3 separate regions of the Homo sapiens genome follow, and regions 1 and 3 are each linked to region 2. Evidence: fine-mapped expression QTL. A gene starts in region 2. Each other region holds a variant in brackets. All regions are shown on one strand. Distances are from middle to middle. Region 1 holds the start of LOC102723967 (a long non-coding RNA gene). Region 2 holds the start of USP53 (ubiquitin specific peptidase 53). Region 3 overlaps LOC102723967 (a long non-coding RNA gene).

The links. PIP is the estimated chance that this variant, and not a neighbour inherited with it, causes the effect. A credible set is the group of variants that fine-mapping cannot tell apart.
Region 1: its variant is the best candidate, but not a certain one, in a credible set for the expression of USP53 in unexposed skin (GTEx, PIP 0.64).
Region 3: its variant is the best candidate, but not a certain one, in a credible set for the expression of USP53 in tibial artery (GTEx, PIP 0.89).

What each region holds. Positions count from the first base shown.
Region 1 is chr4:119,093,458-119,100,971 of GRCh38, forward strand. It overlaps LOC102723967 (a long non-coding RNA gene), which reads left to right and starts at 6,675. Exons shown (of 3, transcript XR_001741422.1): 1 at 6,675-6,713; 2 at 6,883-7,036. The variant A/C (reference allele first, on the strand shown) is at 3,470.
Region 2 is chr4:119,209,176-119,216,689 of GRCh38, forward strand. USP53 (ubiquitin specific peptidase 53) reads left to right here and starts at 3,538. Exons shown (of 19, transcript NM_001371395.1): 1 at 3,538-3,698; 2 at 4,895-5,047. LOC101929762 (a long non-coding RNA gene) reads right to left here and starts at 3,469. Exons shown (of 3, transcript NR_125931.1): 1 at 3,352-3,469. RefSeq lists enhancers at 101-1,300, 2,456-3,030, 3,153-3,272, 3,604-4,177, 3,883-3,932 and a silencer at 3,403-3,532.
Region 3 is chr4:119,110,201-119,117,714 of GRCh38, forward strand. The region is part of intron 2 of LOC102723967 (a long non-coding RNA gene); the gene reads left to right. Among named protein-coding and RNA genes, the nearest start is that of MYOZ2, 22 kb to the right of the region's middle. The variant T/C (reference allele first, on the strand shown) is at 3,504.

The sequences.
Region 1 (7,514 bases), 120 kb before region 2:
ACGTCATCAGGGTCACAGTGATCCTGCAACATGATTGAAATTCCAGGGTAAAATGTCTGTAGCAGTCAGAAGTGGGAGGAAGAGGGAAGTTAGAAGCAAGAGAAAAAGGGAGGAAGGACATGTGACAAAGGCAGTGAATATGATTAATGAGTCCAATTCTTCCTTATGTCACCTGTGGCCTCCCTGAGCATCAAAAAAGAAATAATGGGCTGGGATCCGGTCATCCACATTCCTTCTCCCTACCCCACCCCTTCCTCAGCATTTCCTCAGTATGTCAGGCTCTGGTCCAATAGCTCTATGTGGCAAAAAGGGAGGAAGACAACAGGCAGTCAGAGGCGGGGCTGAGTCCAGTTCCTGGTTCTGGCCAGGGCAGAATTCAGATTTTCAGGGCTTCAAGCAAAGAAAAGACTATGGAGCCACCATATTCCCATACATATATGCTGAAATTAGGATAATTGTTTTTCTGGGTTTTGTGATTTTGACATTTTAAAAAAGCCGATTGGAACTGAACTTCCAACTTTCTCTCTCTCTCTACACTAACACCTTTCTGGCCCTTACTGATGCTGTGACCTTAGGAGAGTCCCTTATCACTATGAGTCTGTTTGCTCATCTATAAAGGTGGTGTGTCATGATTCTTTAATCTCCGTGAGTCTATTAGTGATCATTCGGTTTCATCTTCTAAAGCAAAACAATTTTAAATACCCCTGCTCTGGCTTGTACATTCTACTGACATGTACAGAGTTGAGAATTCTAGTCCAGATTAGTGAGGACATCCTATGTATGTGGTGATACATCTGATTTTACTTATTCTACAAATGTTCACTGAATACCTACCAGGTAACAGCTGCTGAGTGTACGGTGATGAATGAAGCAGAAATTCTCCTCGCCTTGCCCAGTAGAATACTTCAGTGGAGCTTGCAGTCTATTAACTGTAATGGTGGAGCCTGAGATCAGCCCAGGTGTCTGATTCTAGAAGCTACCCTCTTAGTCACAATCTAAGATGGTGGTGAAGAGCCTGACTCTGCAGTTAGGCAGCCTGGGTTCAAATCTCAGTTGTGTCACTTCCTTCCTTAGTGACCCTGAGCAACTTTCTTAACCTCTCTGTACTGATATTTTCTTGTTTTTTAAAACCAAGCTAAAAATGGCAAATCCAAATGCCCAAAGTAGATGTCCTGACATACTCAGGTTAGAGGCACAACTCTTCTGCCAGAACTTGTGCTACGGCTTGCTATGCAAGGGACAATGGTGAGTTTGCTCCACAATGCATGCCTAGCGTTTGGCCAAAGAGGGAAGAATGATTCTCTCCCCATTGTGTGTCTTAATTTGGCATCTAGGTTAAGCAGTTCTATCCTGATGTCCTATTGAGATTTTAGAGAAAAAACCCTTTTCAGTTTTAACTCAAGGGCCATTTTAACTTTACCATCTTCTCCCCAGATTTGTAAAAATATCCTTGGTGACTTAAGAGATCCTTGGGGGCTACTGGAGACCCAGCAGGTCGTGGTCGAGGGTGATCCAGATTTTTCCTGTCCTCTCATCCTTCTCTTTGAGCTTCCCAACATCTGCTTTTCCCTCAAAATAATTAATCCACTTCACAAAAAGATATTACCAAGAAATGTCGATTTACATAAGATTTTATGGAAACAAAAGACAAGACAGTTAACAACCCATATCCCACAGATGACCACTTGAAAATTCCTGTTGGACGTTTCACCATTTCTCTTCTCCAGACTCCTCTTTCCTGCCACGTTACTACCAGTGGTCTCCCTCTTTCCCTTCAAGGGTGCCCTGCTTCATTGCTCCTCTCCTCCTGTTCCCAAAGGCCAGCCTCCTTAGAAGGCAGTGGGGGTTACAAACACCAAAAAAAATTTCAAGTAGACAAGTAACAGATGCTTCCCCATATTCAAAAAACCCACCAGCCCATCATCCTCAAAGCTTTAAAACTGGGAAAACCTTGTCTACCTGTTCCCTTAGGATCCATCCTTCACTAAGACACTCTTGGCATTTCGTGTAATTAGTCTCCAGTGAGGCCAGTCCTCTTCCCACCAAATGTTACCTGAACACTAGTGGCGAGCAAGCTATGCCCTGGTTGAAATAAAGATGCTGGGTAACATGTTCCATTTTCTTCCATCTTATCTCTTCAAAGCAGCCTTGCAACACAAAGCTGTGCCAAGAGCATTTAATTTTCACCACTGTCCTTCAGGCTTCCAGCCTTCTCTGAACGTGCCTTCCCACCTCCCACCCCGAACAAAACTGTCTGCTTTCTACATGTTTTCCACAGTACCCCTACTTGCTTCTACCTAACATTCAACATCTTGTAATTTCTTATTTGCTAATCCATTTCCCCTAGTAGACTGTCTATGAAAGGAGGCATGTAGTTCTTAACCCAACTGGAATTTTAGTATACATTTGTTGAATTAACAGATGAAGGAAAAGCATACGCTTTACTATTAACTATCCTCACTATAAACTAATATATGTCATTGCCTTTGCGGCTAACCTCAGATGTCACAAACCTACAATGCTAAATCTGTCATACTAAGGATCCTCTGTGCTTTTGTTAAGTTTATCCAGGCTATGGTTAACTTCAGAATTCTCTCCTTTCCAGTGACTGCGAGGGCCTTATAAAAGATGCTGCAATGAGGCCGGGCGCGGTGGCTCACGCCTGTAACCCCAGCACTTTGGGAGGCCGAGGCGGGCGGATCACGAGGTCAGGAGATCGAGACCATCCCGGCTAAAACGGTGAAACCCCGTCTCTACTAAAAATACAAAAAAATTAGCCGGGCGTGGTGGCGGGCGCCTGTCGTCCCAGCTACTTGGGAGGCTGAGGCAGGAGAATGGCGTGAACCCGGGAGGCGGAGCTTGCAGTGAGCCGAGATCCCGCCACTGCACTCCAGCCTGGGCGACAGAGCGAGACTCCGTCTCAAAAAAAAAAAAAAAAAAAAAAAAAGATGCTGCAATGAATTTCTTTCTTTATTTCATTTGCTTGCTTATTATTCTTATTCCTTCTACATAAAACGAACAAACAAAACAAAACAAAAGCACAAGCTCTGGTGGCAAATAGACACGGATGTGAAACCCAATTTCACCACTGCTAGCTTTATGATCGTGAAAAATTAGTCTTTTAGTTTCAGTTTCTTACCTATAATACTTACATCCATATCATAGGATTGTCAAAGAATTAACTGGTACATATCAAGGCCTCCTGGTACATAGTAGGATGTTGGTAAATATGAAACCTATTAAATCTCTTTTTTCTCTTACCCCTTTCTCATAACTCCCATTATTACAGCCTCAAAATGCTTACCACCTGATTATTCAGTACACGAGCTGCTTCTCATATTTTCTTTTTATCTTGGTATTCTACAGTTTCACAATGATATAGTTAGGTATAGATTTGTTCTATAGATTTATTCATCCTGTTTGGGCTTCTGCAAGCATCCTGATTTTGTAGGTTGGTGTCTTTTATTAG[A/C]TCAGCCATTATCTTTTTAGAAACTGCTGCTGTCTATTGTCTCTGTCTTCTGCAACACTGATTAGATTTATGTTAGTGACTCTTCATACTAGTCTCCAAGTCTCTTAACCTCTCCTTTATTCTTTCCTTTTCTTTTCTTTTATTCATTGAACTTCATTTTGGATAGTATCTTCAGAGCTACTATATTCTTTTGTGAGCTGTGTCTAATCCACTATTCAATCCATACATGTATTGTGTGTGTGTGCATGTGTGTGTGTATGTATGTGTGTGTGTGTGTGTGTGTATGTATCTATCTATCTATCTATCTATCTATCTATCTATATATATATATATATATATATATATATGCAATGAGCTGCTCATTTTGGGAGGGCTCTGTTAATGAAAACTCTTTAAGACCTGGGGAAAAGATGGGTTCCAATAGAAGGGATTTTCATTTGTTTCTGTCACGTGTCTTTACATTATCAGCCTAAGATCACTTGAAACTAACTCTTGGCTTAAGATTTTTCAAGCCACCACAGGTAATGGTAATTCTGTCTTCAAATACATATGAAAGTTAGTTTATGGTTAGACATTCTCAGGGGATTTTTTTCTCAACTCTGCTTATTACTAAGGTTTAATACAGGCAGTTTTCCTTGAAATACCTAGAGAGGGGCAATGTGCACAGGACATGCATGTTTATTGGTAGTTCACCTTGTATATCACTAAGGATATAGTTCTCTAGTGTCTTTACTTTATAGAGGGTGTGTATCTTATTAAGCTTCCCATACTAGGCAAGCCCTAGACTTTGTTTTCCATCCCCATAAAACTGCAAAGATATACAAACTAAAGTTCAAGTTCATTCTGCGGCAGGAAATACTCTCAGAAGATGTATTCTGATATTTGGCTTACCTCTCTAGGTCCCCACCTTCATTTAATTTATAGCCTGCATGTTCTAGCTCATGGACACAATTCATTTTTTTTCAATTTGCATTTTAAGTTGTTTTAGCAATAGGCTTAGTTTGAGCACCCAATACACCAGGTTACCCTTTGTAGTTTGTGCAGTCTGATATTGGGTCAAGTTGCCGGATCACCTTGCTTGGTGATCAGCCTACTACAAAGTCACAGTATTTAAATCATTATGCTGAGATGTATATGTCAATGAGGTAGTTGCATTATCTTTCTCCACTTTTTTTCTGTAACATTGCTGTACATCATAACGTTGTAAACACTGCTGTAGAAGAAAGAGAAATAAAGAAGATAAAGTTAACAAAGAATCCAAATTTGGATCTCTTAAAGGCTGGACTGTTTTCTTTGCCTTTCCCTGATTAGGACTCTGCTGAGTTGGCCTTCACATTAGGAAAATTGATTATTTACAAATGTTTGAACATTTTCTCACTGACCCCATGGTTGGGTGTGCCTTTGGGATAACAAAAGATGAACAAGCTAAATAGATGTAATTTTATCCTTCTTTTGAAGGAAATGTTGAAAGAAAGCAATACAAAAGAGAAGTAGAAATTTATACCTGGATTTCAGCATGTGAATTTGTTTCCATACACACACTCCAGAGGCCTAAAATAGAGTCTGAGACAATTAATGCTGGAAGGGAAAAGAGATTCCCCAATTCAACCCTGTCCTCTTAGTGATGAGGAAACCAAGTCTCAGAGAAGTTACATGACTTGTTTAACATCGCAAAATAGAACCATTTTTCAGGACTGGATCTCCTGATTCCAAGGAACTGATTTCTTTCAAAGATAGCATGCTCTCATGTAAAATGCAGGTTCCATTTCACCAAAAAATAATGAATATATTTAATAAAGTTAGTAGATTTAGTAAATTTAGTTTATCTTTTGTAGTATACAGAAATTTATGTGAAATAAGAATAAAGAATTTATTGGAACTCAAAAATGAAACAAAAGCAACTGTGAAAATTAATCCTTTCCATTATGCAGTGTAGGATTAATCTTTTAACTCTCCACTATCTTAGTTGTCTTTGCCAGCTCGGTAATTAGAAAACTAAGATACATCGATGGCACTTAGGGCTGCCATAATTAGTAAAGATAAAACTTTTATTATTTACATATATTGCATTTTGAAATAAACTAAGAAATTTGTTTAGACATTTAGAAATAAATATCCTCATCAGGAATGTCTTCTCTGCCATCATCACTAATTATAAGACCCAAGTACATTATCACTAAGGAGCTATATAGCACTCTCTCAGTGAGGCTGAAGGTTGAAAGTGAACTGGAAACCTGCTAGGAGTAAACCTCAGAATTCAGTGAAATAAATGAAGTCAGAACTAGAGACAGAGAGAAGCATCAAATATCCTCTTCATTACTCATGATAAGGCAGCAGCAAATCACACTGACCTAGGAACCATGAAGTTCTCTTGGTATTAAAACCACTCACAAAAATGACCTTATCAGGACATCTCTGACAGGTCAGTGTTGATGCATCCACTAATAGCACAGGAATAACTGTTTATTCAGAGCCACATGTTTTTATTTTTATCTGATATTATGCAATTTTGAATTTCCCTCAAAGGGAGCAGTAATAACCCACACTTGAGATTATTTTTGGACACATTAGAGCTTTAACCTCCTATTTTAAAAACAGAATCCAAGATTCCAATAGATAACCCAGGCTCTCTCTTGCCAGTACATTCCAGTCTCCACAGGTTCACAGAATTTTTAGTCACCTGGGAATAATCAGATCCAGATGAGATTTTTATTTATTTTCTTTTGTTTTAAGTAAGGACACTGAAAGTTCACTTATCTAGTATAGGGTTTTGTTTCACATCTGCAAGAGATCAAAGTTAGTATGGGAAGTATCTCCGGCATGGGTAAGTTGTGAAATCAAAAGAACTGCATGTGCCAGTTGAGTTTAGTTTTTGGATAAAGTCTCATGAGCAAAAACTGAAGACAGGGTAAACATATTATATATCAATAATAAAAAATGCCCATCAACACAACATAAAAGGGGATTACTCTATAGAAATCAAACTTCATGTGGTAAAAGAAATGTTAAAATTATTAGCAAAAATTGCCAAGAGTACCTATTAAAAGAAATATCATTTCTCTCTTGACAGTCTTCTCTCCAAAATGAACTCAACAATGCAGACACTAGCAAAGAAAAAATGAACACTTCTTTAAAAATCATGCTTTAAGTTCTGGGATACATGTGCAGAACGTGCAGGTCTGTTACACAGGTATACACGCGCCATGGTGGTTTGCTGCACCCATCAACCCATCATCTACATTAGGTATTTCTCCTAATGCTATCCCTCCCCTAGCCCCCTCCCCCGACAGGCCCCTGTGTGTGATGTTCCCCTCCCTATGTCCATGTGTTCCCATTGATGAACACATTTTTAATACTATTGCCAAAGGAAAAATTTCTCTAACTTAAGCTTCGTATTTCCAAAATTTGTTTAGCAATTTTTAGGACTTTTCCTCCTGTTGGAAATTTGATGAGCATGAAGAAAAAGCTTAATGGAAGAAACAAATCCGAGGAGAGAGTTTATGGAAAATGGAGAAAGGACAATGAGAACCGACAAAGATTGAATAAGAGAGAGTAAAGAACAAGATGGTGACGTAGACTACTTATTCATTCTTTCTTTTTTCCTTTCTGCCGCAAGTATTTGTTAAGCTTTGCTAAGTGCCAGGTATTCTTCTAGGCACTGGAGATATAGCAGGGAACAAAACAAAGCACTTTCCTTTGTAAGATTTATATTTTAGTGTAGGGGCTGGCCAACTTTTTCTATAACAAGCCAAATAGTAAGTATTTTAGGCTTTGAGGGCCATGCAGTCCCCATTAGGACGTCTGAACTCTGCCATTGTAATGCAAAAGTTGTCACAGAAAGACAAACATGTGGCCATGACTGTGTTCCAATAAAACTTTATTTACTGAAACACATGACAGGCCAATTTGTCCTGTAAGCCATAGTTTGTGGAGTGCAAAGGAAAGAAGGAAGTCCAGGATGACTTCAAAGATTCTTGCTTAAGCAACTTAGTGACCATGACAATAAACAGTTTCCATGGAGCAGTACAGAGAAACTGAAGAAAGC
Region 2 (7,514 bases):
GCAGGATGAAAGCCATAAAGGAATGATGTCACAAGAATTGAGATGAAGATGTCAAGGAGGGAGTGGTCAATTGTGACTAGATTTTTCTGGTTGACTCATCCCTGAGTCACAGCCTAGAGATTTCTCTTCTTGCCTAGCTATAGTTTCCCCTACAGTTCTTCTGTACCTTATTCCAAATGAATCATTCTGCCCCAGAACTTACAAAGGCTTCCCATTGTAGTCCTGTACTGGCCTTGTTCAATCCTGTTTCTAAAACTTTGCTCTTTTAAGTTACATATCTTCCTCAATGCCTTCAAATACACTTGCTTATAATCCTTCCAAGCTGAAGTTCATATTTGATCTCCCACAGAAGCCCTCTCCAACTTTAGCCCACACAGATGACTCTATTCAAAAAAATCAACAAAACTTCCAATTTTTACTCCATCCAATAAACACTGCTTGTTAAGCATCTGTGCTAGGCACTGTGCTATGCCTTGGAAACATGAAAAAACAGAGAGCTTAGGTAGTAAGGAAATTCACTTGTCAGTCCTTATGGATGCATTTAGGAAAAAAAGGATTCTGTCTAGTATCTAACCCTGAGTCAGTCATTGATCTACTACTTCCCTATGCTATATTTCACTCTACCCCACCCAGCTCAGTCATGGTTAAGCTGTTGATTACCTCCTGGAACTACTGGGTTACAGCTCCGCAGGACACAATGTTGCTATTCCTACCAGACATTAGTGGCAGGGTGCATCTAGCCACAGGGTAGCACATTTCTCAAAGTCTGAGTTATAATCAATCCAGAATAACACTAAGAGGTGTGTATATGTGCTGGTGGTGTGAACTTTGGCTAAGCCTCAGCTGAATGATCTAGGGTATTCTTTGGCATGCCAAGCCTGCTCCCTTTCATGATCTCTTTGCCTGTGTGAGGTGCAGAGATTGGTCTTCACAAATTTGGGTCCAGCCAATCAGAAACTAGGGAATCAAACCCACACACGTCCCTCAAGGACAAATAGTAAGAATTAAAATATTTTAAATCCTTGTTGTGACTTTCCCAATTACAAATTTTCTGGGAGCAACAGCTGTCCTGCAATGTCAATTTTCCATTTTTTCATGTTTGCTTCAGACTCTGCCCTCTTGATGCTTAAATTGGGTCCTATTACAACTCTACCATTTAAGGATCGGTACATAGATATGCTAAAAACTGGTAGAAAGTATGAAATTATATAATTTTAAAAGTGTATAGTCAGGGTTTAGTCAAATTCTTGAGCAGGGTGAACTGAAGGGTATTCTTCTGTAATTGCTAAATAAGGAAGGGAGGTAGTATAAGCCATTATTATCCACAGTTCAAATTATTTCTCAAGGGTGGAGGTGGGGGTTACTCTGTCAGGTACATTTGCAGAGAAATAAATATAGTACAACATAATTGTTATAAAAATAAGTCCCAAAAGGGATGACAATTTTGTCTCAGAAAGTTATGAAAAGATCCATGGAGATAAGCATTCGAGAGAGAACCAAAGGATCTTGAGAGAACCAAGAACATAGAAAGCAAGGACTTTAGAAAGATTAATGTGGAGGAACTGGAGGAAGAATGGCGATGAGTTTAACAGTGTGATCATGAAAGGCCCTGCCGGTGGGTAATGAAAAATTCTTAGCAGAGAAGTATAATGATCGTATTTTCACGTTAGAAAAATTATTAATAGAATGGAGGTTGGACTGGTGTGGGAAATAACTAGAGGATATCTTGTGAATATTGCAATAGTACAAGGAAGATGAGTCATAAGAGATGGTGATTACTTGAAGGACTAAGACAGTGAGAGTGGAGGGGTGGACCTGAGAGATACTTAAGGAAATAAGAGTCAAAATTTGATATTAGAAAAGAGGAAATGAAGGAAAAGTAACAGGGGTACTCATAGATTTCTGACTTGGGCAGTTGCGTGTCATTTTCTGAAACAGGGAATGGAAATGGTGTAGGTTCCAGATGGGTGAAGAGGGACATGGCATCAGGAACAGATTATAGTAAAGATGTCCATGTCAATTTGGGACATATTTAAGATACTGTGTGAAATCCAAAGGATGTTGCTTAAAAATGTCCGACGTATAGATATACACCTGAGAGTTCTTGGTGCACAGGACACGTGGTAGGTAAATCCATGATGGGAAAGAGACTGCTCAAGGAGACATGGATTAACATTAAACAGAAACAGCAAAAGAAAATGGAGTGCTGGCGAACAGAGACCACGCAGCGGAAAAACAGTATTTAAAGTGCACCAGAAAAGTAGCTGCAGAATGAGGAGAAAATGACATTAGAGAAACGGAGGGAAGAGTTAATGGTGTGCTCTTATTGTTTTAAAAATGCAGAGTAGGATCTTTTTTTCCCCCACCCCTCCCAAAGTTTTTAATATTTTGAGGGCAGAAACCACGGCTTTATTTCATCCTATTTCTGACAGTGCCTAGTTCAGTAAAGGGAACATAGTAAATGCTCAATAAATTCTTAATGATTCAGCCTCAGACATTACAAACGGGTCCTATTTGTCTCCTGTATCAACGACCAATATTTCTTCCCCCTCTTTCTTCAAATAAACTTTTAGAAGTGCCTCTGGGTTTACTGAAATCCATTTTTACAATTAGTATGTTCAACTTACACCAGCTTTGGAATGAGTTCCAAAACCTTCTTTATTTACTTGAGAGATATTCGGTATCAGTGACGATGGGTTTTTCCTTTACTACTATTCCTAAGAAAGGTTTATTCAAAATCAAAGTTTAGCCCAATTCCCAGCAGTACCTTTTAACTTAAAACCTGTTCGAAAGCACGGCAAAGAGGCGGACAGACTTTTCTGACAATCATTAACCAGGTCAACAGACTTATTAAAGCTATCTAATTAAAGGCAAGAAACAACTGCTTGGGGAATACACATTCACGCCACAGGAAGCCATTTAACTGCAAATAGATCGTCTAACGACTCACGGAAATCTAAAGGAAACTGCGTGTCCGCATGGGGTTCTGATGCCAAACTACGGATTGTTCTCTCAGGTAACACCTAACCTAAGTGAAGTCCTTGGTGGATCCGCGTTCTTGAGCTTAGAAAATACCGAATGAACTACCAAGAGCACCAGAATAATCGCCTCCTCCTGAAGAACTAGCCTCTTTCTCACCACACCAGACAGCACGTCCTACAACCACCTTTCCCCCAACAACCAAACTCCAGCGCCAAGCTGCCGCTTTTGCAGAAATGTTCTATCTCTTGGTCTCGCGCGATCTCGCGCCTCCGAGGAAGCCAACTGTATCGCGCACGCCATCAAATCCCCGCGGGAATAGAATTCCGCAGGTCCAGAAAGCCGGGAAATCGCGAGCGGAGGCGGAGTTACCTCGGTGAGCGTGAAGGCGGAGCCCGCTCCGAGGGGCGGGCTCGAGGCGGGGAGAGGGGCGGGGCTCCAGGGACCTGTTGATCGCAGGTGTCACTGGCCTGACTGGTCCCTGGGTATTGGGGCGTATGCGCATGCTCCGCTCACAGGGTCGGGCTCTGGGCGGCGGAGACCAGCCGCCTGTGCTCCAGTTCCCGGTGAGCCTCGGTACTGTGGCAGCAGTCAGTGTGTCTGGCGGGTGTCGGCGTGAAGCGGGGCTGGGCCAGCGGGAGGTAGCTCTGTGGGAGTGGAAGGCCTGTATTTCTCTACCTGGACCGCACGCTCCTCGCGCAAGGAGGGTAGAGCTCAAGGTAAGTCTCCGAAACTAGCCCTCTGGTTGGAGATCCAGAGACCTGCGACCCCCGCGGGCCTGACCGGGACACTCTCATTCTAGCCCCAGAGCTCGTCTCTCCCCTCGCAGCCCGGCGACCTCCTATGGCCCCGGCCCTCTGGGCACACACACACTCTCTTTGCTGGGCGGTTCAGACGCCAGAGGTCACGCAGCCCTTTCGCCCCTTCTCGCCGCGTCTGGCGGAGATGCCTCTGGCCAGGCTGGAGGCGCTCGCGAGGCGGGAGGAGGTGCTGTACTTGTTGGGTCCTGGATGTTATTGCTGCCGTGTTTGAGGGCGGCGACAAGCTGGAGTCCTGCTGGGATTGTGAGTAATACCCTTACTTGGCTCCTGCCCCTGGCTGTCCAAGCCACATTGCCTCGCCTGAGCACACAGTTTTTTACTTAAAGGGGTCCAGGATGGTTATGCTCCCTCCTTGGAGAAGAGAGATGACTGGACTCGTGAGATTCTTGGGGTGGTGGTTTCTCAGTGGTAGTGGTGATGTATATAAAGTTAATGTTTAGCTTCTAAAGGGCGGCTTACGGGGCATTTACCAAACTATTTTTAAACAGTGTTGGAGAACAGGAAGTACTTGCACAGGTGTAATAGGGAGGGTTTCTAAAACCTGCAATCTGAGGATGTTTTGAGGTTTGTAACCCTGCTACAAGGTTTTCTTTATCAATGCAAAGTATGCAGGGAATTACCAGTTGGACAGCAAAGTTTTCCGAAAGTTTCCTTATCTGGAAATAGATATATATATATATATATATGTGTGTGTGTGTATGTATGTATGTATAAATATATATATTTGCAAAGAATATCTAAGGCTATTTTTGAGGTAGGTTTAATAGTAAACTTAACCTGTAGTCCCAGCTACTCGGGAGGCTGAGGCAGGAGAATTGCTTGAACCGGAGGTTGCAGTGAGCCGAGATCGCGCCACTGCATTCCAGCAGGGGCGACAGAGCCAGACTCCGTCTCCAAAAAACAAACAAACAAACAAAAAAACGCAGTACACTTAGGAAGGTTTTTGTGATTAAGATCTGATTCACTTTTAGTTATTAAAAGAAAAGGCTTGCTGATTTTCACTATTTAAAATGAGTAGCAAGTGCTAACACAAAATGTCTGTTGGAAATGAACTTTTAGTTACATTGATAATTGTTATTTTCTGTTCTTTTCAGTTCCGTGATGATGGTCTAAGCAAAGACCCTTCGTCCTGTTAAAGATAAATTAAAAAAAAAAAAAAAAAACCAAAGGGAACAAAACTTACTCTGCAAAAGTAATATATGATTTACCTGCTGTTGTCATAAGAATTCCAAATAGACAAACTCGGTGTAAGTAGGAGTTAATTATAGTCTGAGAAATAAGGTTTTTGTTTTGTATCTCAAAGGCTTTTAAAATAAGCTCCTTGATACAATTTGTGCAGGTTCGTGTTTACTGGTGATAAACCATGAAAGTGATTTATTAAGATTTTTTCATTAATGAAACTGGGAGGTTTGTGTATTTCTTCCTAACGTGTAAAAAAGAGACTAAGAACTGGCCTTTCCTTTTTCCTAAGAATTTTAACAAATATTTTTAAAAATGTATGTAGATTGTGTAAGTTCATGGAATTTGATACTAATAATCAATTCGTTAATATTTTCACTAAACAATGCATAAGATAGTTTTAAAAAAGATATTTTAATGGGAAGGTAGACTTTTCCAACTAGTGTATTCTTTTCCTTAAAAAAAAAAAAAAGAAAAATCACAATACTCTTAAGACCTGCCATATGTGCTGTGATTCAAGTTCTTTTATATTGTTTAATGTTAGATGTTTATTTTAAACTGTGCAGTATCAAGAAATACAACTTTGGTACCATATGGTTTACAAGTTTGTTTTAGCAAGACAAAGTTTAAAAATGAAAATTTTATCTCATTTAAGGTTATATGTAGCTTTAAAAGCCAAAATCAGAATTATTTTCCCTCCTGGAATTGTTTGGAACTCTCTTACTTACTGGGGTAGGAGGGGGTACATTGCTTTACCCTACAACTTTCCGAAAACACAGTTGATCTTTATAAAGTGATGGAATAAACTATCCTACAAAGATGTTTGGTTACTAAAATACTTAGAAGATCCTTTTTGACAGCTTTAACTGTAAGGTATTTCTTGTAGAACTCAAAAACAACCTGTAGAAAGTTGGGTAGTTTATATATTGCATCTGGAAGCATTTTTAACACAGTGTGCTAGGTGTGCTAGGGCCAAAATGATTGCCAGTTTCGCTTACTCTGCTCATGAGCTCTTGTTTTAAGGAGGGAAGTATGCTGATTTATGTTATCTTTGCAGAGCTAGGTAGAAATTAATGATGTTACAAATATAGTATTATTATATTGTTAATTTTATACTGATGATTTTAGAAAATTTTGCATTATGGTATTTGCACATGATAGGAACAAGAAACGGATGCAACCTGCTCTACTACAAGTAAAAATCCTCAAAGGTTAAATTTTAAATAGCTTTATGTAATATTGTAATCTTTGCAGGTTATACATTTTTTAAAATTAATAATAAGAATACCATAGATACCATGTACAGTATATAGAATATTTAGGCAAATAATATTCTGTGCTCTTCCAGGTTAACTCATATCCTCTATCAGGAATTGTTGAACCAAAAGCCCATGATTAGAACTGTGGTCTGTGGTTAGAATTGAGTTTTAATATAATTGGTTTTCTTTGTGATCTTAGTATTTTTTTTTCTTTTTCTTTTTTTTATGCTATGAATTTTATTTTGTTCATTTACAAACATTATTCATAGGGGGCTTCATTAGGCCACCAAAGATGTCCATGATACAAGAAAAGGCTACAAACCATTGCATCTGGCTAAAGAATTATGATTTTACATGAGACTTCAGAAGAGTTGCTTCATATACTCTGCAGTTCATCAGAATTTTTTCTGCAAAATAAACCTTATTCCAATATCTTAGCTATTTTTATGAACAAAATCAGTTATTTGAGGTGTCATGGTATTTTTGAATTAATTTGAAGATAACATTAGTTTTCAATTTTACACATATTACAAAAAAGAAGTTTTAAGAAATACCCTTCCTTTGGAAGTTTTTTACTGCTGCGCTTTTCTGAGTTAGAAGTATTGAATAAACATTATTGACCTCCTATTGTATGCTAGGCATAGTGCTAAACACTAGAAAGTCAAAAGTTAATTAGACAATGTTGGCTGGGTGCTGTGGCTCACGCCTGTAATCCTAGCACTTTGGGAGGCTGAGGCAGGCGGATCACTTGAGGCCAGGAGATTGAGACCACCCTGGCCAACATGGTGAAACCCTATCTGTACTAAAAAATACAAAAATTAGCCAGGCGTGGTGGTGCACACCTGTGGTCCCAGCTACTAAGGAGGCTGAGGCAGGAGAATCACTTGAACCCAAGAGGCGGAGGTTGCAGTTAGCTGAGATTGTGCCGTTGCTCTACATCCTGGGCGACCGAGTGAGACTCTGTCTAAAAAAAAAAAAAAATCATTAAGTAGTTATTTTTCTGAAAACTTATACTTTGGTTGAAAATTTCTAAATCAAGTCTCTGTTGCTGACACTTACTTCAGTCACTTTATCTTTCTTTCTGATCCATTGGCTGTTAACATTTTAACTCATTTTCTCCTTCTCTCCTTTCTAGTCCAGAAAGGTTTTGTAAATGAATATTTACAACAATTCTGTGGTGAAAATCCACTTATAATGTGAAGTATTCCCAAACATTCATTTTATAAATTAGGTTTTTCATATGCTAGATATTCTTAAACTAGGATAGCTCCGTAAC
Region 3 (7,514 bases), 99 kb before region 2:
AACTATCACCATCATCATCATCATTATCATCATCATAAATAACCAACCCTACCCACTAGCCACTGCATAGAGGTTAACCAACATACCAGTCAAGGACAGGGTTTCTGGATCTAGCCAGAGCTTACCACTGAGAATGATGACCAATAAATATCAGCTTCCTTCCAGATGCGCATCTGAGGCTCATTATTATCTGCTTCTGGCATGGTTTTAAAAGTCTCTCAGGAGCTTGCTCATAGTTGATTACTATACCCATTGTCAAAAAAGGAATTATCCAGAAATTAGCACATTCTTCTTCAAATAATATGATCTCGGTTTTTTTTTTTTGAGACGGAGTCTCGCTTTGTGGCCCAGGCTGGAGTGCAGTGGCGCGATCTCGGCTCACTGCAAGCTCCGCCTCCCGGGTTCACGCCATTCTCCTGCCTCAGCCTCCTTAGTAGCTGGGACTACAGGCGCCCACCACCACACCCTGCTAATTTTTTTTTTTTTTTTTTTTTGTATTTTTAGTAGAGACGGGGTTTCACTGTGTTAGCCAGGATGGTCTCAATCTCCTGACCTCGTGATCCGCCCGCCTCAGCCTCCCAAAGTGCTGGGATTACAGGCGTGAGCCACCGCGCCCGGCCTTTGATCTCATTTTTTAATTAAAAAAGTAACATATAAAAAAAGTACATTGTAAAAAGAGGTAAAGAAAAATATATGGAAATAGTGATCTCATTAATTCATTTTACACTGATTGGATATCTACTGTATACAAGGAGGGATTTTGTTAGGCATTAGACAAAAAGAAAAAGATGAATATAATACAGTACTGATTATCAAGCAGTAGAGACATAAAACATATATTAGATACCAAATTCCACATCAGAAGTATGAATTAAGAGCTATAAAAACACAGAGAAGAAAGAGAAAATTAAATAAAATATGGGAAAATGGAGAATTTCCTTGGTTTTAAGGAAGACATACATAGGACTACTAATGGGAGGATACGGATTAGGAAGATTGAGTTTCCCATCACACTCAGCTAAAAGTCCTCTTCTCTCCCCCTCCTTAACAACCACAATTTTTGTATAGGAGATATAGTAAATATCAAAGAAAGCCATTAGAATAACCAAAAAATTTACAAAAGGCAGCATGCTGAGAAGCACATGTGAAAAAGAGGATTGGCCCATTCACTTTACAAAGTGAAGGATTTTACAGGGTGATTGTGTACATGGGACCATAACACCAACCAGAAAATCCACTGTCACCTTTATGCTCCAGTGCCCACCTCTTACCACATGAATGAATGTGGTCCCAAACTCAAGGCCCAAACTTTATTTTCTATAAGACCATTGAGGTTCTCATTATGCTTGGAATAGCTCCAAGATAATTAAGGTAAAAAATAAATAGACCAAGTTTATGTAATTTCATGAACCAACCTTCCCTTCATTTTGTGGTCTGCTTCACTGTAGGCAAAATTCAACTCAAGAATAAAGAGCAGCAAATGTTTTCACAGTGTGTCTACCCCTGGTTGCCAGCCAGAGCCATGTTTTCAAGCCCTGTGAGAGTGTAATGATTTGACTTTCTTCAGAAAGAGAAAATCAGCAAAATAGTTCTAGTTTTGTATCTACTCTCCAGTCCCCACCTTCACTTGTTTGCCTTTCTGTATATCTCATTTATGCATTTTCTCCGATACTTATTTTTCAGATTTCTAAAACAACCTCGAACATATCTATTGTCCTCTCATTCAGAGTAACCTATGGAAAAGCACCATGCCTAGAGGGAACGTGGCCCACTGAACCTAAATAGCAACTTGGAAAGCCTGGTTCTGGAATAGAGTAAATCTAGAATTTGATTAGTACACCATGTGTAGCAGAGCAAAGTGATGAACTTCTAAAAGATATTGTGAATTTGGAAAAAACAAAGCAGAAGGGATAAATTGTCCTAGTTTATGATATTATCACAAGCAGTTATAGTATTATGAAAATTAAAACTAGTCTCATTGAATAATAACAGATACAAACAACTAGGGGTCAGTTTCTGGAAAGGCCCCTAATAAAATCAAACACAATTTTCTATTCTTCTCTGAATTACATTTAAATTTATTCAAGAAAATTAACAACAACAACAGTAACAGGTAAGACTGGATCTTTTAGTTCCCACCTAAAAATAAAATCAAATGATCCAACAACTCCTCTCTCAAAAGTCAGGTTTGGGATCATATACAATACGAATAGTAAGTGTCCACCTTAGTTTGCACTTTTCCATGATTCAGTAAAAACTCTTTTTTAAAAATGTCACATTTCGTTTCTTGCCTCCTCTACCCTGTGAAGGCACTGTAGAGTTACTATTTATAGAAGTAGGAAGATGGTCTTATGGAAAGAACACTGGACAGATCTAGATTTTTATCCCGACTTTACTCTGCAAACTTAAACTAGTAATTTAATCTTGTTGAATCTAATTTTCTCATTTTAAAATGGGGACAAAAGGATTTTTCCTTGCTTTACTTGTAAGGTTTTCATGAGTATCAAATGAGATAACATATATAAAGTGCTTTTAAAAAGTATAATGTTTTTGTACACTCTTTACTAAAGACATGTAATGAGGCACTTACTATATTTTATTCATATTTTTTTCAAGCTATTTTAAAACACATACATATGCTTAATTATCACAATATACTATTTTATCAATTCTTTTAAAGTAACCAGCATACACTAAAGCAGGTTAAGCTCATGGACTTTTGAGTCAAACTGCTGCTTACTAGGGCAAACCTCTTAGTCTACTTCTCAGTTTCTTAATCTATAAAAGGGTATATAATACTAGTACCTCCTGTTAGGACTAATCGGACTGTTGTGCATATTAAATACATTAAAATCTGTAAGGTACCTGGAACAAGGACTGTTGTACAGTAAATACTGAAAAATTAGTTTTTCTAAGAATAATAAGAATCTGAAAAGATATGTGAATCAGCTGGCATCTTTATCACCAGAGGAGTTAGATTTACATATCAGACCATGTGATACATTTACTCTCTCAGTGGGGACAGTGGGGGGGATGTAGTCACCTGTTTCTCTTAAATCCACTTATATATTCTATCCAAAAAGAAAAGATCACAAAAACCTGGAAATCCTAACTACCTTTTTTTTTTGCAATTGTTCTCAAGAAAGAAAAAGGATATAAACAATATGACTCACTAGCAAGTGAGAGGATGTAGCCAAACTCCATATTCCAGGCTTCTACTTCCTGTAGGTGGTTAACTTTTTGATTTCACAATGCTTAGTCATAAGAAAATGGAAGCAGTGGTTAAAGACATTAAATGAGAATGTGTCCTCATAGTTCCTAGTCCAGAGATCCAAAATAATTTATTATGCCTGGAAAAGAGCAAAATAGCCTCATGGTCCTCATGGACACAATAGAGCCCTGTCTTAAGAAACATCTTAGGTTTGCTCTTTATCTTATCAACCTGTGTTTCAACAACTGTCAGCTAAATTCTGAAGACATGACTGGGATATTAGTTATGCTTC[T/C]TATTGAAAACTCTAATTGTTTTGCACCATTTTTATCCCTGTATCAAAACACAGTAAAAAGTTACCTTCTCTATGGTAACTAAGCAACAAAGACATTTTTTTTTCTTCTTAAGGGTTTCATGAAGTTACATTTTTTATCTTTTAAGACTAAAATCCTTTCTTTTTCCTAAATAATCCAAATAATAACTAACACTAATTACTCTCTGGGTATTACTTTTAGTGTCCTTCATAAACTATCTCATTTAATCCTCACAACAACCCTATGGGTCAAGAACTGATATTAATTCTATTATACAGATGAGAAAACTGAGAATCATAGATGTTTAATAATTTGCTCGTGGGGATGCACTCAGCAAATGTGAAAGCTGGGATTTGAGCCCAGGTAATCTAGATTAAGAGTTCATGCCGATGTATACATGAGTATGAACCTCATGAAAGAGATAAAGAGCTAAAAAAAATCAATAAGGCTTGGTGACTGCTTAGATGTGGTTGGAGGGGTAGCTATGAAACATTCAAATAAAAGATGAAGAATAAGGGAAAGTTTAGAAAAGAGTGAAATAATCAGTTTGACCTTGAACATGTAATAAATTATTGAACAGCTACGTAACAGAGTGGTTAAATCAAGAACTATTAATCTGTCTTCTAGCTAGGGTCCTGGAGGAAAAATCATATAAATTTTTTAATTATAAAAATTTAAAAACATATTCTATTTATTTAAAGACACTTTTAAAAAGTAATAATGTCTAATAAAGAAAAGCAAAATTATTTATTTCTTCCACAAAGAGAACACCATTATGTAAAAAATATTTCTTGTACTCATACGTATGAATGCGTACACACACACACACTACATAATTGTATTCATCTTAGGAAGTTCATGATTTGTTTTTCTTATTTTCTAGTAGCTAGCATAGGGCTCAGTATGTATGAAACAGTAACAAATATTTGTTGAGTCAATGAATGATCCCAAATCTATCCCCTTTTCCTCCATTTCCCCAGCTACCATGTTAAAATCATTCTTCCATGCTATTCTAATAATCTTCAGGTGGTCCCATTGCCTCTAGTTTCATTTCCCTTGAATTCATTCCCTGAATTGCTGTCACAGTTATATTATTATTATTATTATTATTATTATTTTTCGAGATGGAGTCTCGCTCTGTCGCCCAGGCAGGAGTGCAGTGGCATGATCTCCGCTCACTGCAAGCTCGGTCTCCCGGCTTCACGCCATTCTCCTGCCTCAGCCTCCCGAGTAGCTGGGACTACAGGCGCCTGCCACCATGCCAGGCTAATTTTTTGTATTTTTAGTAGAGACGGGATTTCATCGTGTTAGCCAGGATGGTCTCGATCTCCCGACCTCGTGATCCGCCCGCCTCGGCCTCCCAAAGTGCTGGGATTACAGGAGTGAGCCACCGCGCCTGGCCCACAGTTATATTATAAAATGAAAATCTTCCTACATTTTAATCATGAATCTTTGATGGCTTTTATTGCCTATGAAATAAAATGCAATTCCTCACCACTCAAGAGTTTTTCCAATTCAGTCCTAATCTGCTTTTCAGACCCGCCTTCTGTGATTCCTATCTCCACCCTCATCCTGTTTCAGGCATCAACCTAGTCACATTAGACCACTTACAGCTCTCAAAATACGCCACGGAGCCTCACTCTTGCACCTCTACTCATGCCCCTCCTTCGGACTGAAATATCCTGTCCCGGTCTTCCCCATCAGCCAATTATTTGATTCATCCTTCAAAGACAAACTAAACAAAAACAAAAACTCTTCTGTAATGTCTTCTTCAAACCCTTTCCCTATTTTCCAGACAAATTAATTGCTCTTTCTTGCATTTCCAGAGAAATAGTCCCTACAGTTACAACTACAGTTTTGTAAAACTGCAGATCCCCTGACCTCTTGCTCATAGAGATTCAGATTCAGTAGGACTCAGGTGGAGACAGAAATCTGCTTTTTGAGCAGCACACAACATCCCAGCCTAAGCAATGCTACTTCAGAGCCAGACTGAACTCTGGGTTGTTGAGCATTAAGCATTCTCCTTAAAGCCTGACTCAGAATCATGCTAGTAACAATCAGAAGTAGAGCATGTTGGGCTCCATACTTTCAGGTATTAGCAAAGCCAATCATTGTTTTTGATATGTTCTATAGGTATGCATCCTGGGGAAGTAAAATCAAGCTCTGCTTCTTCACGTTGTTCAAACTAGCAGGGAAACAGAGGGATGGAAAACATAAAGCAAGACAAAAGCACACTGTTAAATATAAACAAAAAAAGAAAGGAAAGGACATGTGGCACGTAAGTTGACCTCTAAGTTGCCTCTAGAATATTGCGCTCATGGAAAACAAGTGAGGAGGTAAACTAACACAATGGAAGTAGTTATGAGCGAATATAATTTGGAGCCATAAAGGGCCTTGGCTGGTCCCAATCATCACAACTGTTTTCCTAGAATGGCGTCAGTAGTTCTAACCAAGTCATTTTGAACCAAATTCTTAAGATTTTTCCCATTAACAAAGATATGTGACTCCTTTTGAAGATTTCAGTTCAAAGCAACTCTAAAATCCATCCGCTTCTCTCTTGGATACAATATGCTCATTCAATGAGTAAGTGCCCAGAGAAGAAAAGTGCATTAATAGAATCTTTAGAATGAACAGCTTTAGAGACAGAAAGACTGTTAAAAGATCTGCTAGACCATTCTTCTTAATCTTTTTTATAAGAGTACATGTGGAAAAATGATATTAGTATGGCATATTGGGGTAATGACATGAGACTGCTAGAAACTCAAAAAAGTGACTAGCAGGAGCTCAAGTAGTCCCAGACAACACCTAGGGATCAAAAAGATTAATACATCCTAGAACATCTATAATACATATTACTTGGGAAGATATAATTGATAAACTAATGCAATTCGAGATGAGAAAAAGCAAGCCCTACAGAGTGGCATGACACCCCAGAGGCTAACAGCGTCACTTAGTCGAAGTGCTAGCTTTGGGTTTTCACGTGCCTCTTAACAGTGATGCCAATCAATCTGCCATTGAAAGTTCATCCATTCTGACAATTGTTGGAATCATTTCAAGAGATCCACAATTCATTAAGGCACTCAGCATTGGTAACAAACTGAAAAAAATGGTATCTCCTACAAATATCTGTACTATTTTCCAACTGTATTTAAATGCAAGTTGGAAAAATAAAAGAAAAATTCATGTCTTAGGTCATTGAAAAAAAGTTAGATAAAATATTAAAAGCTCTTTTAAAATGAATGGAAGAGGCTCTCAGGAATTAAGTAAGAATCTAAATTTAGGGAAATAAGTGAGCACTGCAGCAACTGGGTTCCCTGGGAGTACCCACACATCCAGGCTGCCGGGAACTTTGCATTTTCAGAGAGCAGAGAGTTTCATTAGTGACCACCAGCACAGAAGCCATGCGCAGGAAGGTCAGCACATGGAAAAGAGTTCACTAGAACAACATAAGTAAACAAATGACCCCTCACACAGGAAGGCAGCAAGCAAAAGTGTCTGGCAAAGATTTGACTGTGGGAGAAAAGGCTCTCCTGAGAATCTGTACCACTGGAAAGTCCAGACATGAATTTAGGATCAAAATTTGCACTGTTTACATGGTAAGGAAAATTACAAGCTGAAAGTTTTCCTTTCTGGACTCATTTTAAACTAGTTCCAGACCTGTAATGTCTGCAGACATGTGGCAAAAAGAAACACAGATTTTCCCTAGAGAAATGAATCCACAACCTTGGTATTTATTAGAAAAGTGCAAAGGATTGTGTTTTATTGCGAATACAACTTCAGAATCAATTTTAAAAAATCACAAAATACATTTGAACTAAGCCATTGCATGCAAGTGTCACAGAAATAATAAACAACAGAAACTTGAATATTGGAAATGTACAAATATAGGGAATATATTATAAATTTTTTAGAAAAATTATGTGTTTAAGGAAAAAAATTTTTTAAACAAGAAAGAGGTAAAAATATGACTAATCAGCAAGAAATCAGGCAGA